3 separate regions of the Homo sapiens genome follow, and regions 1 and 2 are each linked to region 3. Evidence: fine-mapped QTL for protein levels in blood plasma. A gene starts in region 3. Each other region holds a variant in brackets. All regions are shown on one strand. Distances are between the middles of the regions.

Region 1 (6,998 bases), 47 kb after region 3:
TGTCTTTACCTGCAGCACAGTCCAGTTGGCCGATGCTGAATCCACTCTGTTGTTTCTCTTAGGGGGGAAGCATAGTTAACATTGAGTGTGTCTGTTTTGGGCATTGTGACACATTTCATATCCGCTATCTTAGTTAATCCCCAAATGTTTGGTTTTTATTAACTTCTTTTGGAATTCAGTATATAGGTTGAATATTTGTAGGTCTCATTTTTCCAGCTTATAAATTGACTGCCCTTTTTAATAAGGAGGCATGCTTTCCATACTAAGGACATTTGTTTTTTTTTCTTAAACACCAGCAGGAACTAGATAGCTTTGAATGAGAAGACTTTGTTTGACCTTGTAGCTCATGATAGGGAGGTAGTGGCATGCCCATCATATGTATAGTTGTTGACAGATTGATGTTCTTATTTTAATGTGATTAGTAGCAGATTTCCAGTAATCACCCTGAATTTTTTTAACTGAACTTATTAGAGCTAATCTGCTTTTCAGAATCAGTAATCACTCTAGGTCCTAGTGACAAGGTTAGTAAAATGATCATGGAAGTATTTCAAAGGAAATAGAAGAAGGTTTTACTCAGGTTCATATTTCTCCTTGAGGATTTTATATCATCCAGTCCTGTTAATCAAAATGCATGGACACTGGCTTTAGAATAATTTCTAGAATAATTCTTTAGAAGAATGAATTTATTTATTTTTGAGATGGAATCACTCTGTTGCCCAGGCAGGAGTGCAGTGGTGCAATCTCGGCTCACCACAACCTGCAACCTCCTGGGTTCTAGCAATTCTCTTGCCTCGGCCTCCAGAGTAGCTGGGATTACAGGTGTGCGCTACCACGCCCATCTAATTTTTACATTTTTAGTAGAGACAGGGTTTCACCATGTTTGCCAGGCTGGTCTCAAACTCCTGACGTCAAGTGATCCACCCACCTCAGCCTCCCAAAGTCCTGGGATTACAGGTATGAGCCACTGCACCCGGCCTCTTTTTTTTTTTTTTTTTTTTTGGAGACACTCTTGCTCTGTTGCCCAGGCTGGAGTGCAGTGGCGCCATCTCGGCTCACTGCAACCTCCATCTCCTAGTTTCAAATGATTCTTCTGCCTCAGCCTCCCAAGTAGCTGGGATTACAGGTGTGTGCCACCATGCCCAGCTGATTTTTGCATTTTTAGTAGAGATGGGGTTTCACCATGTTGATCAGGCTGGTCTCAAACTCCTAGCCTCAAGTGATTTGCCTGCCTCAGCCTCTCAAAGTGCTGGGATTACAGGAGTGAACCACTGCGTCCAGCCAGAATAATTTCTTTTGTCAAACATTTTGTGCTGATGCAGCATGACTTTGTAATCAATTTTTAAAGTTTTACATTTTGTTTTTATTTCATTGTTGATTAAGCCATAATACATATGTATTATGTAATATTATGTATACGTAATCCATATATGTTAGGACTTATGCCTAATGCAAAATTCCTTGTGGTCTCCACTGATGTTCTCCTTCCAGTTGTCGGATACCAGATAAAAAGATCTGTCTTATCTCTTTTGGTTTGTTTGTGTTCACCATTCGTTGTCCAGGAAATACACCAGGAATAGTGACAACACGCAGCAGTTTCTTCAGGAGCCAGAAGGACCCACGCTTTCAAATATGTGTTTAGTTCCAGTGGTTTGCACACTGGAAAAGGAGCGTGCTGTGTGGTGGGGGAGATATGGCAACGCAGGGAGCTGGGTTTACTCCCTTTCTGTTGATTCACTCCCCTCTGATCATTCTCTTATTTGTAAACTGGATGCAGTAATATCTACTTCAGAGGTCTGTGAAGCCTGAACGAGGCCATGTGTATAAAGGGCCTAATGGGTATTGCTCTCGGTAAATAGTTACATTACTCTCTTTTTAAGTAACTGCTGGTTCTCTTGGTTGTATTGTTTTGCCTTAAAATTCATTTGCAGACTACATTGTGGGGCTCTTGAGTTCCTTTTATGAAGGAACAATTTTGCATATCTGAGGGAGTGTTGCCACTTTTCTACATTTTAAATCCTAGCATCAGAGGTTTGTTCATATGTAGCAGGAGGTCATCTGAAGTAGCAGGTCCTCCTTTTTTAGTTTTTTCTTAGGGGGGTGGGTGATAGATATATGGTGTGTCATAGTCGTTTGGGAGTCTGGCATCGGAAACCTCCTTTAATGCTTGGATTTGTGGTTTTGCAGGTATGGGCGGAGCTGCCATTGCCCCACCCACTTCTCTGGTAGAGAAAGACAAAGAGTGTAAGTAGATCTGTTTCTTCCTCTTTTATTCTGATACAGGTCTTTAACCCAACCATGGGGGATCTCAGCTTGGGCCCCCAGGTTTCCTGAGCGTAGAGGGAAACGGCCTGCAAGCCTGCCTGGCTCTGTCACCTGAGGCCGCACCTGGATCTCAGAATGCAGCGCCCTCCTGCAGAGAGAGACCTTTCTACGCCAGGCTCTGAGGCTTGGATTTCATGCAGTGGGATCCATCTCTTTTTTATGCAATTCACTTTGATTTCATTAACATTTCTTATTTGTTGTTAGATTCATTTGGAGTTAAAACAGCAGATCGTTACAGTTTTTTAACTCAGAGGTTTAGAGGCTGTTATATTCATGATCCTCCACAAGGTGGCAATGCCTTCCTTGATTAGATTTTTTCTTCCCGTTCCATTTCACTGCAGGTGGGTTTGCGTGTCATTGCGTTGCCAAAACACCCTCACCCACTGTTCCTTCTCGCAGTGATCTGCTCTAGAATTTGGGGGTTGGGACTGGACTTCTGAATATCATCTAGGTCATTTTCCCATTCTCTGGATTGGACCATACTTAAACTATCCCAAGCAGATATTCTCATTTATAGTACTTTTTAAAACTTGTTGAATTCTTTATCTTTTAAAGAAGATAATTTCTAAGATATTATGAAATACCTATTATGTGAAAACAACAGACAAACAATAAACCCCAATTGAAACTAGTCTCTGGGAGTGGGGCTCAGGCATCTGGATGGTCTTAAAGCGTCCTACTGACTTTCATCTAACTAGGGTTGAAGCCACCGCTCCAGTGCGTAGCCCCTAACCTCGGACACCTTTGTGGGCCATGAGCTGATGAGATAGTGAGGTCGGGGTCTAGACAGGTGCACCCAAGTTACTGCAGGAGTCAAAAGATGGCCAGATTGTATCTCCTTAGAACATACAGAACATCTTTCCGGCAAGAATATTCATTCAAGAAGATTTTAAAGGGTGAATAACATTTCAGTAAGATATAAAAAAGACGTTTGAGGAGATAGAAATAGCAAAAGGAAAGTTAGAATCAGGAAAGTAGCGTCCTCCCTCTGTGGTTTTAAAAAAAGTCGTATAAAGGCTGTAAAATTGATTTGGTGTTTTTCTCTCCTTGTGGTAAACCAAAAAGTAGGTTAAATTTGTTCAAGATAAATAATTGATACAAGTGAGGTTTCAGAGTGTTTTCTATAGTATTTTGGTGAGCCTACTTTATTTTTCTCCAATAGTACCCCGAGATTTTCCTTATGAAGAGGACTCAAGACCTCGATCACAGTCTTCCAAAGCAGCCATTCCTCCCCCAGTGTACGAGGAACAAGACAGACCGAGATCTCCAACCGGACCTAGCAACTCCTTCCTCGCTAACATGGGGTAATGATTTAATGTTCTTATCTAAGGACTTGAGAGACAGTGTGAAGCGTTGATAGCCCTTTCAATAGATGCAGCTTGTTTGAAACTGAGGACATTCAGGACCCTTGGTGTGTGCAGGTCACACGGTACCTGCCTCAATCGTGTGGAGCGTGTTCCAGTGTAATGATGGGGCTTGTTCAAAACAGCAACCTCCCAGTA[G/A]AAGTTTTGACTCATTTTGATGTTGAACATTATTTTCCTAGACAGGCACAGAACCTGATTAATGTTTACATTTGCCTTCATAACGTTTGCAAATAAAATAGCTCATATGAATCAGAGCTGACTTACTGTCTCCAAAGGGCAGGTGATACCTTTTTTTTCCTGATAAAGTGGGCCATTTGCTTTCAGGTCATGGTTCTAAACCTTTGGTCTAAAAAACTCGGGGTCATTCTAACTACAAGTTGACATGTTTGCCAGCATATAAAATTTGACTGTAAGGCTGACGCTCAGGTGGGGCTTGGGGATTTTTTTAAACTGTGCTGGGCTTGGCAAACATTTTGGTTAAGAGGATATTCTGTGTTGTTGACTTTGATCCTGTGAGACGGCTGTCCCATGAAGCAGTATCACATGAAGGCTTTGTTCTGTGCTGTGTTGCATCTGCTGGCTGCTGCCTGTAGCAGAAATGCAGCCGGTGAGACAGTGAGTGGGGTTGAAACTCACTAGTCTCCTTTCAAGTGCTCAGTGACCACATGCAAGTGGTGACGATGTTGGATGGTGCAGACATAGGACATGGCCGTGGCTGCAGGAAGCTTTGTGTACTGGAGGGTTGGACAGACATGAAGCTGGTTTTGTTTTGTTTTGTTTTGTTTTCCCTGTTTATGATAAAAACTGACTTTTTAGCGAATTTGCTTTTAACCAGGAATTACATCTTTAACTTGTGCTTAGGAAAGATGCAAGATGGTACCATTCAGCAGTTTCTGGTCTTTTTAGCCCTAGAATAGCTTGTTCAAATGAAAATGTTAAGGGAATTAAATACAAGAAGTAATGTAGGTGCAGTTCCAGTTGAAGCGGGATTTTGTGGCTTAAGCCCTAAGCAGCAGTGGTCATGGGGTTGGGGTGCCCTTCAGACCCATGCTGCGCCTCAGAGCGCAGTGTGAGAGCCATTTGGTTGTTACAGAAAGCAGTGACTGAGAGTTGTGGGGTCCAGTTTCAGCTCTACCATTAACAGCTGTACAAATAATTTATTTGTTTTCTGAGATGGAGTCTCGCTCTGTCGCCCAGGCTGGAGTGCAGTGGTGCGATCTCGCCTCACTGCAACCTCTGCCTCCCAGGTTCAAGCAGTTCTCCTGCCTCAGCCTGCCAAGTAGCTGGGACTACAGGTGCACACCATCATGCCCAGCTAATTTTTACATTTTTAGTAGAGATGAGGTTTCACCATGTTGGCCAGGCTGGTCTTGAACTCCTGACCTCAGGTGATCCACCCGCCTCGGCTTCCCAAAGTGCTGGGATTATAAGTGTGATCAACTGCACCCAGCCTGTACAAATAATTTCTAATATGGCGTCTTGCATTACTTCTAAGTCCACCCCTTAAGCTAGTCAGCTAATCTTGGCCTCCGTTTATTTCTCATTTGTTAAATAGGTGATCTCTAAGGGTTCTTTCATTTGTATAGTCTGTCATTGGAAACTCTCCTGTGCTATTTAGGAAAATGGGATCATCTTCATTGTACGAAACTTCATACTTACTTTTTGATAGCCACTTTTTAATAAACTGTGGTCATAAGCTATGTGGCAGTGCAGGTCCGGAGCACACAAAAGGTCTTGTGTTTCCTAGCAGGGCACTGAGGAGACTCCACCAGAGAAACTGACATTTCCCCTCCAAGACAACAGGATGTTCTGGATTTTATTCATAGCTTTTTCTATTTCTTTCATGCTGCACATCCCCACAGCTTCCATCTAATAGCCCACTCCTAGTTAATGAGTGACTTTGTTGAAGCCCCTGTGGAGCATGCACTCTCTCCAGAAGGAGGTTGTTGTGATGGAAAAATGCAACCTATCTCCAGTTGACGATGTCAAGGCTAAGAGTCCTTTCCCTTCTTCTCCTGCCAGGGGCACGGTGGCGCACAAGATCATGCAGAAGTACGGCTTCCGGGAGGGCCAGGGTCTGGGGAAGCATGAGCAGGGCCTGAGCACTGCCTTGTCAGTGGAGAAGACCAGCAAGCGTGGCGGCAAGATCATCGTGGGCGACGCCACAGAGAAAGGTGTGTCCCCAGGGAAGCGTGTGACTAGAGGGAAAGGACTGGCCCCATCCATATCAGACATGGCCAGTCTTGATCCTCATGTGTCAGCAGGGGGACAATGAGGCGTGTGGCCAGAGGGAGAGGGCTGGCCCTGCCATCACTAGAACACAGGCCGTCCTGTTCATATGATGCACTGCCACTTCCGTTTTGTGAAACCAGGAATCCTGAGGCTCATCTTTATTTTTTCAGAACAGACGTAGAGAGATGAAGGCTTGTGGAGGAAAAGATGGTGAGAGACTTGGGCAGAAAATGAGTAGTCCTCAGGAAGAAATCTTGGTTATGTGTTTAGAGCATGAAGGACAGAGCCATATAGTGTGGCAGTGAATATACCTGCTATCTCCATCTCAGAGGTCGTCTCTACTTTTCCCTTTTGCCCTTTCAGTATAGATGTGATTTCTGATTCTCTTACAGATTGTTTGCTTTGCGAGATCTGATGTTATGTTGCAGTCTCTTGGTAAATGATGCCTAGTTGGTGTTTTATTTTCATTTAATTTTTACAGTCTGTTCTGTGTTGAGGGAATTCAGGAAAGAGACAAACATATGTTAGCATTTTAATCAGGGAATTAAGTTTGAGTCAGCCTAGCTGAACTTCCTTTGCTAAAGAAAGAAGAAAACTTTTCTGGCAGCCCCGTTCATGCACAGCTTAGGATACATCACGAGCCTGACAGGTGAGTGCCAGAAACCAACAGTTGTCCCGACTTGTGAGGTTATCTGAAGTAAGGCAGCCGGTGGCTGGATTAGTAACTGCATATTCCCCTGGGCCCGTGACCTTGAACGTTTGCTCCAAGTCAACTCACCTATAGGAATTATCACTCACATGCCCTGTCAGCCCTTTGGGAAGTGAGATGAGCAAAAATTGCAAGTAATGGTGGAGGCTCAAAACATCCAGATGCTATTGTAAAAACATGCCAAAGCAAAGCAGAGGCTTTTATTGCAGATAAGGCTGTGTTTTCGCTCAGAGACCAATTGTGTAGATGCCTAGGACATAAATGGTGGGGATCGCTATTGAAATTAAATTAATTATTGTAAGTAGGACTCAGTTCTGTAACACATCTAATGATATGCTGCTCAGTTCTGTAACACATCTAATGGTATGTTT
Region 2 (8,000 bases), 45 kb before region 3:
TGTGGGAACTCACATAGGTTCACACAGTTATTTGTTTCACAACATAAACACTGAACCATTCCTACTTCCAAATAGCTTTGTCCTCTGGGCCCGAAGGCTTTTGATCTTCAAACTAACAAATGAAAAAAATCCTTGCAAGGTGTTAAGGCTTGTCAGGTGTTCAGCCTGAGGAAGGAGAGGATGCAAGTACTGAGTACACGTACAACATGTCAGCCACGTCACATCCTTCCCCTCCTGGAAGCCTAAAATGACACCTTAGGAGTCAGCTAACCCCTTAGAGAAACTGGTAGACTGCCGGGTATATGAATCATTCCTGCTACAATAACCCTAGGGGGCTTATCATTTGCACTGCAGTAATTTATACTTTTTAATTCCCATGAGGAAAATTAGGAGTATGTTATGGACCTGATGACCCATATAAGAAGGGAAGAGATATTTTATTTTTCTCTCTGGCTGGGCTAAGGGCTTTGGTTTTGGGGGAGTGGATCTGTATTTTCTCAGGGTCTTACTGTGGAGTTTGTATCAGGGTTGGCCAGAGTGGATGCTGGCAGGGGTCAGGGAGGCCCTGGATAATCAAGAGAGAGACAGAGGGAGTTTCTAGAGTTTACTTTTTCTTTTTCTTTCTTTTCTTTTTTCTTTCTTTCTTTTTTTTTTTAAACAGAGTCTTGCTGTGTCACCCAGGGTGGAGTGCAGTGGTACGATCTCAGCTCACTGCAGCCTCTGCCTCCTGGGTTCAAGCGATTCTCCTGCATCAGCCTCCCGAGTAGCTAAGATTATAGGTGCGCACCATGACAGCCAGCTAATTTTTGTATTTTTAGAAGAGACAGGGTTTCTCCATGTTGGCCAGGCTGGTCTCAAACTCCTGACCTCAAGTAATCCGCCTGCCTCGGCCTCCCAAAGTGCTGGGATTACAAGCGTGAGTCTGGCCAGCTTCCCTGATTCTTAATGCTGTTAGCCTAGTGCGGTGATCCTCAGAGTCTGCTCCCTGGAACGGCAGCGTCAGTATCACCTGGGAACCTGATAGAAATACAGATTCCTGGACCTAAGCAAGACGACTGCGTCAGAAACTCCACAGGTGGGACCCAGCAATCTGTGCTTTAACAAGGCCTCCAGATGATTCTTTCAACAAATGTTTTTAAGTTGACACATAATAGTTATATATATTTATGAGGTATGTAGGGATGCTTTGATACCTACAAGGTACAGTGATCAGATCATGGTATTTAGCATATCCATCATCTCAAACATTTATCGTTTCTTTATGTTCCTACAGATGATTCTGGTGCTAGTTCAAGTTTGAAAACCAATGGCCGGGTGTAGGGTTGTCAAACCTGGATGCATATGTATTAGATACATCTGAGGGGCTTTAAAACGTACGACTATCCCAGACATAAAAGGCCACGTGATTCCATTTACACGAAATGTCCAGAATAGGCAAATCCATAGAGACGGAACATAGAGTGGTGGTTTCCCGGGGCTGGGGAGAATGGGGAACTTGGCAGTGTGGGGCTTCTCTTGGGAATGATGGAAGTATTCTGGAATCAGTGGGGATGGCTGTACAACATTGCAAACATACTAAATACCACTTACTGTGGTTTGAATACATCCCCCAGAGCTCAGGTGTTGGAAACTTAATCCCTAATCCAGCAATGTTGACAGGTGAGATCTTGAAGAGGTGATCAGGTCGCGAGGGCTCTGCCTCATGAATGGATTAATGTTGTTATTGCAGGAGTGGGTTTGTGATAAAAGCTGAGTTCAGCCCCTCCTGCTGTCTCTCACTCTCTTGCCCTTCTGCCTTCTGCCACAGGATGACGTAGCACAAACGCCCTTGATACATGGGGGCCCCTCGACCTCAGACTTCCCAGCCTCCAGAATGGTAAGAAATCTCTGTTCTTTATAAGTTATAAATCTCTGTTCTTTATAAATCTCTGTTCTTTATAAGTTACCCAGTCTCAGGCATTCTGTTACAGTAGCACAAAATGGGCTAAGACACCACTGAACTGTACATTTTATGATGGTTAAATGATGAATTTTATCTCAATTAAAAATACGTACTGATGTCTTGGGCTCACCCCAGACATTCTGACTGGAGCCCAATCATTGATATCTTTTACCTTTTTCTTTTTTTTTTTTGAGACAGAGTTTCACTCTTGTTGCCCAGGCTGGAGTGTAGTGGCGCGATCTTGGCTCACTGCAACCTCCGCCTCCTGGGTTCAAGTGATTCTCCTGTCTCAGCCTCGCAAGTAGCTGGGATTACAGGCACCCACCACCACGCCTGGCTTATTTTTGTATTTTTTAGTAGAAACAGGGTTTCAGCATGTTGTCCAGCCTGGTCCTGAACTCCTGACCTCAGGTAACCACCTGCCTCAGCCTCCCAAAGTGCTGGGATTACAGGCATGAGCCACAACTCCTGGGCTATCTTTTAACTTTTTAAATTATTATGCTGTTTTGGCTGAACAACCTACATAAGCTACAAAAATATTTCCTATTGCAACAAATTTGTTCTTCTATTGTTGCAAATGAAGATTCCCCCCAAATTCAAAGTGGGTCACAATGGTTTTGGTGACAGGATTTCCCTCTTGTAAACCTCTCTTAAAAGATGTCACAGCTATGAATAACACTGAGCCACAGGAGAAGCACAGCCCTTTGGACTGCCTTCCTTTTCCTGTGGAATTTACTCATATCTTGCCACTCACTGGTATTTTAGAAGACTGTCTCCTGGATGTTCTAAGATGCATGCAGGGTTGAAAATCTGAGTTAATGCAAAAAGACCACACATGGTTTACATTCCTGGTCAAGGGGATGCCGGTGTGAGCTTCTGTGGACGGGAGGGTGGGGAGCACAGGATAGGCAAAGCTCAGCATAGATGCTGCCCTGGGTCCTCTATAGGTAGGGGCTGGGTGGGAAAATCATGGGCTCTAGATTCATGTTGCAGTGCTGGCCTCTGCTGTGCCATCTTCTCCAAGCTGTTGCATCTCTCTAGGCCACAGCTATTCCAAAGGTTTCTGAGAAGGTAGATTTCAATAATGTTTATAAAACAAGCATCAAGCCTGGTGTATAGTGGGTGCTCAATGAATGTGAGGCTCCTTTGCCTTCCCATTTCCCTGGTCGTTTAATTTTTTTTTTTTTTTTTTTTTGAGACAGAGTCTTGCTCTGTCACCCAGGCTGGAGTGCAGTGGTGAGATTTCTGTTCACTGCAACCTCCGCCTCCCAGGTTCAAGCAATCTTCCTGCCTCAGCCGCCCAAGTAGCTGGGATTACAGGCACCTGCCACCATGCCCAACTGATTTTTTGTATTTTTAGTAGAGATGGGGTTTTGCCATGTTGGCCAGGCTTGTCTCAAACTCCTGACCTCAGGTGATCCACTCAGCCTTGGCCTCCCAAAGTGTTGTGATTACCAGCGTGAGCCACTGCACCCGGCGGTGCTTTAATTCTTTTTAACTGACTCTTTCCGAGGCATGGATTGGCCTCTCCCTTTGCCACTCCCTGAACTGCAGGTGATTAGAGAGAGCATGGAGGGGGTAGGGGGGAGGCAGGGTGGGGCTGGGTACAGGACTTTGATCTGACCAAGGGCTGCCTTGGTGATGCCACACTTACTGTCTCCGCTGCCAGGTGAGCCCACTCAGGAGGAGGACGCTGATCAGCAGGAAAACACAGCCGGCCACTGTCAATAGAGAGAGGGAGTTCAGCAAAGGGCCCTGGGCTTGGCATGGGGGCAGCAGGAGCCAGGGCCACAGGGCAGGCTGAGGACATCCCCAAAGAGCAAGGCGGAGGCTGCAGCCTCTCTTCCCTGTCTCAGGAAGTAGGTCCCTCCCCATGGGATTTCCTAGGAGTCTTGAGGAACAGGGCAGGGAGGACAGGGTGAGGGTGGAGGGAGCTTCCCCTCAGGAGGCACCCTTCTCTCACAAAAGCCCCTCAGAAAGGCTCAGAGGCCAGGCCTCGTTTAAGGACACCGAGAGCGCCTGGTAAAAGAAATGTTGAAATATGAAGATGATGAGAAGCACATTAACATCT[C/T]CTGAAAGAGGTCGGGTTTTCCAGATGCTGCTCTGCTGAGGTTTTGGAGGCTGACATTTGTTTACTTTCTAGGCAGATGCAGACTCAGAGTCTGTTTTTCCCTCCTACCAGGAAACAATGGCAGTGTTTCTGGAAGCCTGTCCTCTCTGACTGGCTACGTGGCTCCTTCCTCCCACTCTTGACCCCTGGCAGAGGCCCGGGGTACAGCCCTTCCAGATCAGCTTGAGAGGAGCTGATAGGGCTGACTTGAGACTTTGCTCACAGCATCCTGTAACTGGTTCATGCGAATTCTGAGTTACGTCAGTATCTGGATTAGTCTTTCACTCACACATTCTGCAGTGTAAGGAAGGGGTCCTTTCAGTCAACCAACCAACCTACCAATCAACTAACCAACTAACAAACCTACTAACCTACCAACAAACTAACCAACCAACCAATCTACCAATCTATCTACCAACCAACTCACTAACCAACCAACCAGCTAACCAACCAAACTACCAACAAAACTACCAACCAACCTGCCAATCTACCACCCTAACAACCAACCTACCAACCAACCTATCAACTTATCAACCAACCCACCAACCAACCTATCAACTTACCAACCAACCTATCAACTTATCAACCAACCCACCAACCAACCTATCAACTTGCCAACCAACCTACCAACCAACTAACCAACTAACCCACCAACCTGCCAATCTACCAACCTACCAACCAATCAACTAACCTACCAACATACAAACCAACCTGCCAACCAAGCAACCAACCAACTAACCAACTAACCTCCCAACCTACGAACCAACTTACCAATCAACTAGCCAACCTACCTATCAACCTACCAGTCAACCAACTAACCAACCTACCAGCCAACCAACTAACCAACCTACTAACCAGTCAACCTGTCCATATCTCAGCCTGGTGTACATTTTGTCCACAAAGCCAGTGCCCCACTCACCTGCTACCTGGTACTCTGTTGTAAATATGGACGTCTCCATGGTTGCAGCCATTTCTGTCTGTATTTGAAAATCTGTGAAAAAGAGATAAAGAGAGACACTCCTGCTACCGTGACTTTAGGACAGCACGAGGCTAAAGGAAGTCAGGGTGTCTCTGTGAATGAGAAGCTCAGAGGCTGGTGGGAGACACGTGGTGGTGGTGAGGGAAGGTGTTCCATCTCTGCCTGGGGACCGTGCTTGGTCCTGGTCCTGGGTTCCCTCTTTCTGACACTTGCTTTGGGGCCTGCAGGTTGCTGAGGCCCTGTCCCTGCTCAGAGGGAGAGGAGGCTGCTGTGGGCTTCTCCCCTACAGGTCACCTCCGCCTATCTCCCTGAGCCTGGCTCCTGGTCACCTCTGCCCTTTTGGACTAGGCCTCTGTGGTCCAGCGTTTGTCTTCTCCCGCACCTGTTGTTGTGACGAGGCAGGAAGTCTCACTCTCAGGACGGCCTTCGGGGCTTGCCTGAGGCTTCTCTTCACCTGGGGGAGAGAGTAAGTGATGCTGGTGGAGCTAAACACAGGAGTCAGGGCCTCACTCCCACCCCGCCTGCCCCAGGCAGCCGGCCCCAGACACGCCCGAGGAGGCAGGAATCCTGGTGTGGGCACTTCGCCAGGGATGCCACCCCTCATGGTTCCACAGCAGGGGCACTGGGAAGCGGTGAAGTGGTCTCAGCAGAGCAGACGAGGCTGAATTCTAACTCTGACCCTAGCTGTCCCCAAAACTCTGAGCAATGCTTTCTCCCCAGCCTCCCTCCCCAGTCCTGGTTTCCATCTGTGACTTGGAAACAGGTCATAATAATACGAATGCCATTGAACCACTGGATGGAGCAGAGATGCACTAAGGGACAGCTGCTTCTGTGCCAGGCTCTCCACTTCTCCTGAGGGGTCAGCAACCCTGGCTCTGCCCTGCCTCTCACCCTCTTCCAAGGAAGCAGCAAGCATTCCCTGGCTGTCAGGGTGGCCCAGGGAAGCAGCTAAGGGAACAAAACAGCCTCCCTAGGGAACCCAAGAGAAGGACATGGAGTATGAGAAGTGCAGTGAGCAAGAAAACCAGGAATACTTGTGGTTGAATGTAAGTCACTTTTTTTTTTTGAGACGGAGTCTTGCTGTTGCCCAGGCTGGAGTGCAGTGGTGTGATCTCAGCTCACTGCAACTCCACCTCCTGGGTTCAAGTGATTCTCCTGCCTCAGCCTCCCAAGTAGCTGGGATTACAGGCACCCACCACCACGCCCAGATAATTTTTGTATTTTTAGTAGAGACGGGGTTTCACCATGTTGGCCAGGCTGGTCTCGAACTCCTGACCTAAAGTGATCTGCCCGCCTTGGCCTCCCAGAGTGCTGGGATTACAGGTGTGAGCCACTGTGCCCAGCCTGCATGTAAGTCACTTTTGATTGTCGTGATACTAATAAGATTTCAGAAGGAAGACAGCAGGAGACCTCGACATCGGTGGGCTGAGCATTTGCATGAGTATGTGTGTGTGTGTGTGTGTGTGCGCGCATGTGCACTGAGTAAGTCCCGACTCTGCACATTTTATGTTTATTTTTACAAGCTCAGCTGGGGAATGGCACAAGGGGAAGGAACATGCTGACCGTGGAGGGCTGTTCAGATCATGCATTTACACGATCACCAGTAAGAGGAAAAATGTGTGAGTGGGAAACTGGACTTGCCCTTGGAGCCAGAGGAGGCCTTGGTGGCTTAGAGAAGTAGTGGACTTAGGACCAACTACGAGGCAGCATCTAGGGTGCTTAGGAGAGGGCTTTCCTTCTCTTCTGTCTCCAACCTTTCTCCCCACTCAGGGCACAGGGGGACCTTCATTGAAGGAGCCCTTAGAGTCCATCTGATCTGGTCTATTTAAATTTTTTTTTTTTTCTCAGAATGAGAAAAAATGGAAGCCCAGGGAGATCAAGGGTCTTGTCCAAGGACCACTCTTGTCCAGCAGGAGTGGTCAGGGATTCCACTCTGGTCAGCCTGATGGAGCAAAGCAACATTGTGGACCCCAGAAGGGAGCCACCCTACCTGGAAACTGACTGGTCTCCATTTCACCTGTGCATATGAGCTGGGGCTGGGTCCACCTTGTCTTCCCGTGGGTCATTTTGCAGACGCTCTCAGCAGGACCTCTGTGTAGAGCCCTGTATCCCTGGACGCACTGATAATAAACCATCTGCCCCACCACGAAATGATAAATTCTCTCTGTGGCTTCATTTTCCCATGGTGGAGGTTCCCTGCAGTGACCTGGAAGATGGAAGGAATGCTCTGAAGGCAAGTTGGGGACAGCACCGCGAGTGAGTCCAGGTTGCCTCTTGCTAGGGACTGGACCTTGGTTCTTACTCTCTTGACTGCTTGCTCATCCTTTCATTCAACCAATATATGTTGAGAACGTCTGAGCGTGGGGAAGTTTGCTAGGCCCTGTAGGAAGGCACGAAGACCCTGTCACTCCTGCAAGGGGTGGACAGTGGATTGGGTAAGAAAGGCATGTGAAGGATAGCAGACGTTGGCAATGGGAACACAGAGGAATGAGCGATTCATTCTGGTTGGTGCGGCCCCGAGACAGGAACGCCACAACTGCCTCTTGGAAGACAGTGCAGGTGTTGACAGTGGACAGGAGTGGGCGGGGCAGTCTCAGCTGAGACACAAGGGTAGGCTCAAGCCTATTTGGGCCAATGGAGCATGAAGACCACCTTGGATTTCTGCTGGACAAGTGAGGAAGTGCATTCTTGGGGGCAGCGGCTGGGCATCTTGGGATGATGTCGGAAGGATTGGGGACAACACCAAAGCCAGGAGGAGGGACGGGCTGAGGGAACCTCAGAGAAATGGAGCACCATCTCTGATCAAGCCACACCTGAAGGTTGACACACATGCGCCCTTTCAAGACGTCTCAAAATTTCCCATCCCCAGAACTTTCCACTCACCCAACTACATCCCAGGCCTGACGGACCTGTGGCCTGAGACCATGTCTTGTTCTGATTAAATCTCTGAATTCCCCACCCACAGCCCC
Region 3 (8,301 bases):
AATTCCTGTTGATTCCAGAAACTTGACCCCTGTCATTGTCTTTGGCCACTGGGTCCTCATTTGCCTTGTGATTGGACTATTTTAAGAGCCTCATGACCTGTCTCTGTGCACCTGATCTCTCTCCACTCTATGCCAGTATCATCTCCATAAAGCGCTGACCCTGTTTGCAATGAACAGAAACAGAACAATCCAGGGAGACCAGGTTCAAACCCTGGCACTCTCACTGCCTGTGCGAGTCTGAGTTTTGGGTTCTTGCTTCATCTAGGGGTTCATGATATCCATACTGCAAAGTGGCTATGAAGATTACAATAGGACACATATCTGGCACATAGAAGTTACTTTATAAATGGTAGTTTTAAATTTTCTTGTAGTTCTTTATTGCCTACTAGGTGAAGTTAAGAAGTTATCACTAGGAGAATTCTCTTTCTGACCACATCCCAGGGCCCAGCAATATACAGACTAAAAATGCCTAATGCCTTAGATGATTCATTTTACCTCATCCTAACTTTCCAGTTTGAATTCCCCATATCCCCACCCTCCCTGTCCAGGGCAGGAGCACATTGGACCACCTGCTGCTCCCTAAGGCACTCCTGTGTTTTGGCTCATTGGGGTCTCTCTCCCTGGAATCTCATTGATGGAAATTTACTGGTCCCTTGGGGCTCCCTTTACATGTCATCCTCATGAAGCCTTCTCTGATAGCCCAACGCTCCGTAGATCTTACCACACTCTGACTGGTATTACTATATTTATATCTATGTTTTTCTCCTCCTCACCAGGTTATAAGTTGCTTAAGTGTCAGGACTATATCTCCCTCATTTTTGTATTTCCTATAGTGTTGAGGGGCAGATGGGGTATGGATAGATGTTGAGAATGGCGTGAAGGAGTCCTTATGGGACTCTAGTTCCCCTGCTCCCTCCAAGACCACTCAGACCCTTGGATAAGTCACCAATAGCTAGAAATAACACGAGTTTACTTGAAATGTGTCTTCCAGAGGCAGAGCATGATTAATTGTCAAGATTTTCCTGTTCTTGGCTTAGACTGAGTTAGCAAAGACCCTGTGGATGTAGAAATCACATTGAAAAACCTTCCTAAAAGTATGCCCTCTTTATAAGAACGGCACGATGGACTCTGAGGACTCAGGGGAAAGGGTGCGAGGTGGGTGAGGGAAAAGAGACTACGCACTGGGTACAGCATACATGCTCAGGTGATGGGTGCACCAAAATCTTACAACGCATTGGGTACAGCATACATGCTCAGGTGATGGGTGCACCAAAATCTTACAAATCACCACTAAAGAACTTATTCATGTAACCAAACACCACCTGTCCTCCAAAACCTATTAAAATAAAACACATAGGTCAGGCGCGATGGCTCACACCTGTAATCCCAGCACTTTGGGAGGCCATGGCTGGTGGACCACAAGGTCAGGAGTTTGAGACCAGCCTGACCAATATGGTGAAACCCCATCTCTACTAAAAATACAAAAATTAGCTGGTCGTGGTGGTGCACGCACCTGTAAACCTAGCTACTCAGGAGTCTGAGGCACGAGAATTACTTGAGCCCATGAGGTGGAGGTTGCAGTGGACTGAGATCACGCCACTGCACTCCAGCCTGGGCAACAGAGTGAGACTCTGTCTCAAAAAGTAAAAAAAAAATAAATAAAAATGTAATAAGTAAATAAAATGCCCTCTTTAAAGACACTCCTACATCTGGGCCAGTACACAGCCCAGCATGACTGGGCACTTCCCCTAAACAAGCAAGCAGACTCCTGAAATGCATCATTATGTTTCATTTCTTAATAAATTCTTTCTACAGCCAGTTAGCATTCTACTTGTTGCCATTATAGACTTTCAAAAAACACTATAAACTTTCTTATCTGTCTTCCTGAGTAAGCAAAGGGAAGACATTATTAGAAAATTCACACTCAATTAGGAAGAGTGGTTTGAGGTAGAAGTTGGTGGTTTTTTATTTCTTTAAAAAAAAATATTGGCCAGGCACGGTGGTTCATGCCTGTAGTACCAGCAGTATGGGAGGCCAGGGTGAGTGGATCACTTGAGCCCAGGAGTTCAAGACCAGCTTGGGCAACATGGCAAAAACCCCATCTCTACAAAAAAATAAATTAACCAGGTGTGGTGGCGTATGCCTGTAGTCCCAGCTACTCAGGAGGCTGAGGTGGGAGGATCGCTAAGCCTGGGAGGCGAAGGTTGCAGTAAGCCAATATCGCGCCACTGCACTCCAGTCTGGCTGACAGAGACAGTGTCAAAAAAAAAAAATCTTCGAGAAAATCCATTTGAAACAAGGAATGAAATTTAAAATTTGCATATATAAACACGTATACATATACATATCATGTATATACATAGGATTATGAGAAGTAGTAATGTTCTAAAAGTGAGTATGCATATTTTTAAAAATTTCTGTAAAGTTGCACTTGTAAGGAAATTCCTAGGTGTTATTTCCTAAGACGTAAAAGCAGTGTATACATCCTTGAAGCTAAACTTTTCTGAGATCTTAAATTCTCCCAGTGTTTGATATATGAGTACTCATGTCTCCAGCAAATTAACCTGAACTTAAAGAGCTTCCTGATAGCTTCTTAGTTGGGGGGTGGGAGTGCAGAGAATAAAAGGAAATTCATTGAAGAATAAAAGATAATTTCTTGAGAAACCTGCTCATCGGGACCCTGTTAACATCCAAATATCCCAAATATCATGCCACACTATTCTTCCCAGAATTAATTGTCAAGGACTGAGAAGGACAGGAGAACCTAATGCTATTTCAGGCTCTCTTGACAGACCAAGGAACAGTGAGGCATAAACTGGGGTCCCCGTGGGTCACAGGCAAGAGGTGGAACCCAAGATTCAACTCCCTTCTTGGAACCATCTACCTGGGGACTCCCTCTGGTTCTGTGGCTGGGAAGAGGGATGCCCATCAGCCTTCCCGGAATTCCGGGGGCACCCACAGGCCCTTACCTGCCTGGCAGCCAGGCACCATGATGAACGTGAGCAGTCCCCACATCAGCAGGTATGAATCCATCTTCCTGACCCTTGGGACCAGCCGGGGCAGTGAAGCGGAGGTCTTTCTCTGCAGAAGGCCCAGTTGCCGTCAGCCTCTTTTTGGCATCGCGCCGGAGGATGTGGGATGGGAAGATCGGTCCGCCTGGGCTGTCACCCTTGTGGGTCCATCCAGTCTCTATCGGAGTCAGGAGTTGCTCTCTTTAAGTATTGGGCTGGCGTGTTCAGCCAGGAAACTGCCTAGCACTCTCTTCTCTCATCTCAAATATAGGAAGTGTTTTTTTTTTTTTTTTTTTTTGATGACAATATAGTTTGCGGTAATTTTTCAAACCAGGTTTTTTTTTTCAAGTTCAATTGCTGGAGGTGTGGGCTGGGGTTGATGAGAAGGATTGAACTTCATTTATGAATCCTTTCTTCAGCTACGCCCATAAAAGGAGAGGGAGATTCCCCTGCCGTTGAAGGTAGGGTGAGCAAGCACTTCTTGGCAGTGGTCTCACCCAGCACTTCATAAGCTGAGTCCTCCCCTCAGGGCTGTAACGTCCTCAGGAGTCAGCCGGGACCACCTGGGATGAAGGAGCAAAGTCCTGACAAGATTCTGGTCAGGCAGCCTCCAATATTCAAATAATGGAGAAGGATGCGGCGAACTGAAGGATCCTGAGAATTCATAAATAATTCCCCAAGGCTTATAACCTGTACTAGCCATCATCATTTCACCACAGTGCCCTGGGCTCCTGAAAGTGCATTGTCATTTTATAAGGTGTTTTGCTTCCAGATTTCTTTCTCTTAAAGGATCATGCAAAAAGTGGGCTTTGGTTTTAAACTTTGGATTATTTTGTAAAATTCAGTCTTGCTTATTTATTGATCAGAGCTCTCTTCTGATTATTATGAAATGGTTGAGTGTGTTTTGCTCCCTGGAAATTTGTCTAAGACTTAAAGCCATTGCATAGTTAGAGCAAAACACAATTTTTTAAATACTAGAAAGCAAGCAAAGATATTAACAAAAAGAAAACCCTCCGGGCAAGCCAAGGAATTCAGGGTTCCAAAACACATCACGTTGACTGGGCCTGGTGGCTCATGCCTGTAATCCGAGCACTTTGGTAGACCAAGGTGGGTGGATCACCTGAGGTCAGGAGTTTGAGACCAGCCTGGATGACATGGTGAAACCACCGTCTCTACTAAAAAAAAAAAAAAAAAAAAAAAAAAAAAAAAATTAGCCAGGCGCAGTGGCACACGCCTGTAATTCCAGCACTTTGGGAGGCTGAGGCAGGCAGATCACCTGAGGTCGGGAGTTTGAGACCAGTCTGGCCAACATGGTAAAACCCCATTTCTACTAAAAATACAAAAATTAGCCAGGCGTAGTGGCGGGCGCCTGTAATCCCAGTTACTCAGGAGGCTGAGACAAGAGAATAGCTGGAACCGAGGAGGTGCAGGCTGCAGTGAGCTGAGATTGCGCCACTGCACTCCAGCCTGGGCGACAGAGTGAGACTTCCATCTCAAAAAACTTGTCAAAATATGACAAGATTCTCTTAAATTCCACAGCAGGTATAACTTCCTCTCTAGGAACGTTTCTCACTCTGCGGGCAAGTGCTCCAGTAGAAACTCCTAGTACTCCCACCAAAGTCACGCTCCTTTCTTCTTGGGCATGGGAGTAGAATGCACTTGCTGCCTCTCCTGGAAAATAGCTTATGCTTTAAGTAGTTAATGTGGATTGTCATTATAAAATATTTAAATTTATGTTAATGTCTTTTTTTTTTTTTTTTTGGAGCGCAATGGCACAATCTTGGCTCACTGCAACCTCTGCCTCCCAGGTTCAAGTGATTCTCCTGCGTCAGCCTCCTGAGTAGCTAGGATTACAGGCACGCGTCACCACATCCAGCTAGTTTTTGTATTTTTAGTAGAGACGGAGTTTCACCATGTTGGTCAGGCTGGTCTCGAACTCCTGACCTTAGGCGATTCACCCACCTCGGCCTCCCAAAGTGCTGGGATTACAGGTGTGAGCCACCACGCCTGGCAATTACAAGATTTTTTTAAAGCCATATCACAAAGCCCCCACAATTTTTCTGGTAAATAAGAGGCCCAACTCTTGGTTCTGAGATGGACCATGGTTAAACAAGTCATTGAACTGGCTTTTCTGGTTCACCTTACGGATGAACGCTCTGTCGTCGTTTGCTGATGCTGAGGTTTCCAGTTGATGCTGCATGGCACGATGCAGGGATGTGAGAAGAAGTTGGGGGTGCAAAAGCAGACCCATTTTGTCACGGATTGCCCAGGATCTCATACTGAAGCTGTAGCAAAGCTTTTGCCCTTAATGAGTTTACAGGTGAAATGGAAAGACACTTGAGTGTCCCTTCCTCCAGGAGGCCTTTTCCAGTCCTTTCTACTCCATCATAACACCTGCCGTGCTGCATTGCAATTCACTGTTTATATCTCTTTCTTTCTTCTAGTTGCTGTTAATCTTTTTTGGATTAAAAACTCTTTTTTGTTTTTAATTTAAGTTCCAGGATACATGTGTAGAACGTGCAGGTTGGTTACATAGGTATAAGTGCGCCATGGTGGTCTGCTGCACCTACTCACCTGTCTTCTAAGTTCCCTCCCCTCACACCCCACCCCCCACCCTGCAGCAGGCCCTGGCGTGTGATGTTCCCCTCCCTATGTCTATGTGCTGTCATTGTTCAACTCCCACTTATGAGTGAGAACATGCGGCATTTGGTTTTCTGTTCCTGTGTTAGTTTGCTGAGGATAATGGCTTCCAGCTTCATCCATGTCCCTGCCAAGGACATGATCTCATTCCTTTTCATGGCTGCATAGTATTCCATGGTGTATATGTATCACATTTTCTTTATCTAGTCTCATTGATGGGCATTTCAGTTGGTTCCATTTTGCTATTGTAAATAGTGCTGCAATAAACATACGGGTGCATGTGACTTTATAGTAGAATGATTTCTATTCCTTTGGGTATATACCCAGTAATAGGATTGCTGGGTCAAATGGTATTTCTGATTTTAGATGCTTGAGGAATCGCCATACTGTCTTCCACAATGGTAAAAACTCTTTTCTTAATTTGATAGAACCTTTGGTTTCCCTCCTTGGAAAAAATGCACATCAGCACATACTCTGGATAAATCCGTAGGAAGTTTCAGGAGCATTATGGGCAGTTTGTTTTGTTTTGCTCTGTTTTGTTTGAGATGGGGTTTCTGGAGTGCAGTGTTGCCATCTCAACTCACTGCAGCCTCTACCTCCTTGACTCAAGTGATCCTCCCACTTCAGCCTCTCAAGTAACTGGGACCACAGGCATGCACCACCAGGCCTGGCTAATTTTTTTTGTAATTTTTGTAGAGATGGGGTTTTGTCATGTTGCCCAGGCTGGTCTCAGACTCCTGGACTCAAGCGATCCTCCCACCTCAGCCCTGCAGAGTACTGGGATTACAAGTGTGAGCCACCACACCCAGCGGTTGTGGGCACTCTGAACTTCAAAGGTCCAAGGATCTCAGGTTAAGGTGTCAAACTGTGGGCCTCTAGAGGATAGCCCTATGTCCAGTTTATCTGTGAACTTACGTCACCTAACAAAGTGCATAACACATATGGGTGTCCAACCACTATGTATGAAGCCACATGTGCATACAAATATAACTAGCATATACTAAAGCAGTTTCAGACAAATTCTTTGTGAGGCAAATTCAAAGTTTTGTTTCAAACCTGCTGCAAGGAGGTAATTTCCAATAAGTCCGGTTCAAAGATTTCTTTCCTAGTAGAGGGTTTTTTTTTTTTTTTTTTTTTTTGAGGAAAGTTATCTAGATAACATTGGTAGATTAAGTTCAAGAAAGGAACAAGTTCAAGAAAGGAACATTTGGTTAAAAGTAACTAGGTTCATCCAGGGACAGCCGGTCAACAGTGCAAGCTGAGTCTCACTTCATCAGGAAATTGCTCAATTCTATTATCAGAAATGTTTGGTACTTCCTAGAAGAAACTGCTCAGAACAGCGGACAACAAATTTCTGACCTAGACTGCCTTCCCTTAGGTTTAAGACCACTTTCTTTCTAGACGTACAGTGGGGTGAATACTAATGATTATGGTAAGAAGAGCAATTGAAATGTAGGAGGGAAAAGTTGTTGAGCTGATGTGATCAGGAAAGGCCCACGTATTGTCCTTGAAGGATGGATACGGCCTTGGTAGGTGGTTCCTGAGGAAGCAGAGTGTGGTCCATAGTTAACCAGAAGTAGAGAGGGGTAGAAGCTAAGGGCAGAAATATCAGCTGGATTCAGAGTCAGGTGGACCTCGAAAAACAGAATAAGATCTATGGACTTCAGCCACTGAAGCTGTCTAACCCAGGCGGGACATAGCCAAGTGATGTGATGATGAGGCCGAGCTGGTGTGGTGTGCAGGGAAGATTGAGGCATAGAGATGCTGAAATACTCTTCAGGAAGGAAATCATAAGGACTGGAGGAAGGTGAAATAAATTGGAATGGCAAGGAGGCTTGATGCCAGAATATCAGGCAAAGGGAAAATGCAGTTGGTAATGCCTGGATGTGGGGCAAGAAGCGGGGAACAGAATTTGTGAGCTTTGGCGAGGAGAAAATTCACTGATTTGAGCTCATCAAATGGATTGGCGAAATTCAAGTGTGTGAGGCTGAGGTTAGGGGATGGCAGAGAGGCAGTAGCATTTGTGAACAGGAGTTAGTTGTTCACTTGGGTTGTTCTCTTGTTCCTACAATGTTGGACAGTCCTTGAAGACAGCATTTATTATCCAGACAACTCTAAAGCTTGACTTGCCACCCCCCTAGCCCCAACCACAAGAACGAGTTTTCAGCTTGCAACAAAAATCATTTCTGTTTATTAGAGTCTAGATTGGGGAGCAGGGGCAAAGAGTAGAGGAAAAAAGGGGAGAGGTGGTGAGGAATCAATCACCTTTCATTTTCCTTTACTTACCCTTGGGGCTTGTTAACGGTCACTTCCACAATGCCCATAGAACCGGCCGAGCACGATGGCTCACGCCTGTTATCCCAGCACTTTGGGAGGCCGAGGCAGGCAGATCACCTGAGGTCAGGAGTTTGAGACCAGCCTGGCCAACATGGTGAAACCCTGTCTCTACTAAAAATACAAAAATTTGCCGGGCTTGGTGGCACATGCCTGTAATTCCAGCTACTTGGGAGGCTAAGGCAGGAGACTTGCTTGAACCTAGGAGGTGGAGATTGCAGTGAGCCAAGATCACACCGCTGCACGCCAGCCTGGGGGACAAGGGCAAAAGTCTGTCTCAAAAAAAAAAAATGCCTGTAGAACCAAGTGGCACAGA

Direction of the effects. Alleles are on the strand shown, and positions count from the first base shown. The strength of an association depends on the size of the effect and on how common the allele is. Not every link is listed here.
For the plasma level of the protein whose gene starts at base 3,249 in region 3, allele G in region 1 goes with a lower level than allele A (weak association).

The links. A credible set is the group of variants that fine-mapping cannot tell apart. PIP is the posterior inclusion probability: the model's chance that the variant is causal. Protein levels are from antibody-based Olink assays in UK Biobank. Linkage for the fine-mapping came from a reference panel and not from the study's own genotypes, which makes the PIPs less certain.
Region 1: its variant is the best candidate, but not a certain one, in a credible set for the plasma level of the IL2RA protein (UK Biobank, PIP 0.84).
Region 2: its variant is the best candidate, but not a certain one, in a credible set for the plasma level of the IL2RA protein (UK Biobank, PIP 0.58).

The regions. Positions count from the first base shown.
Region 1 is chr10:6,106,502-6,113,499 of GRCh38, forward strand. RBM17 (RNA binding motif protein 17) reads left to right here. Exons shown (of 12, transcript NM_032905.5): 6 at 2,185-2,241; 7 at 3,485-3,626; 8 at 5,709-5,860. Among named protein-coding and RNA genes, the nearest start is that of RBM17, 21 kb to the left of the region's middle. RefSeq lists an enhancer at 1,309-2,004. The variant G/A (reference allele first, on the strand shown) is at 3,825.
Region 2 is chr10:6,014,457-6,022,456 of GRCh38, forward strand. IL2RA (interleukin 2 receptor subunit alpha) reads right to left here. Exons shown (of 8, transcript NM_000417.3): 4 at 7,022-7,237; 5 at 5,414-5,485; 6 at 4,972-5,043; 7 at 3,597-3,663. LOC124902368 (a long non-coding RNA gene) reads left to right here and starts at 1,002. Exons shown (of 3, transcript XR_007062042.1): 1 at 1,002-1,075; 2 at 1,808-1,876; 3 at 6,880-7,038. It overlaps LOC124902573 (small nucleolar RNA SNORA14), which reads right to left and starts at 2,738; the gene lies at 2,598-2,738. The variant C/T (reference allele first, on the strand shown) is at 4,014.
Region 3 is chr10:6,059,119-6,067,419 of GRCh38, forward strand. It overlaps IL2RA (interleukin 2 receptor subunit alpha), which reads right to left and starts at 3,249. Exons shown (of 8, transcript NM_000417.3): 1 at 2,970-3,249. The coding sequence starts at 3,033. RefSeq lists an enhancer at 2,960-3,009, a cis regulatory region at 3,002-3,632 and a silencer at 6,634-6,834.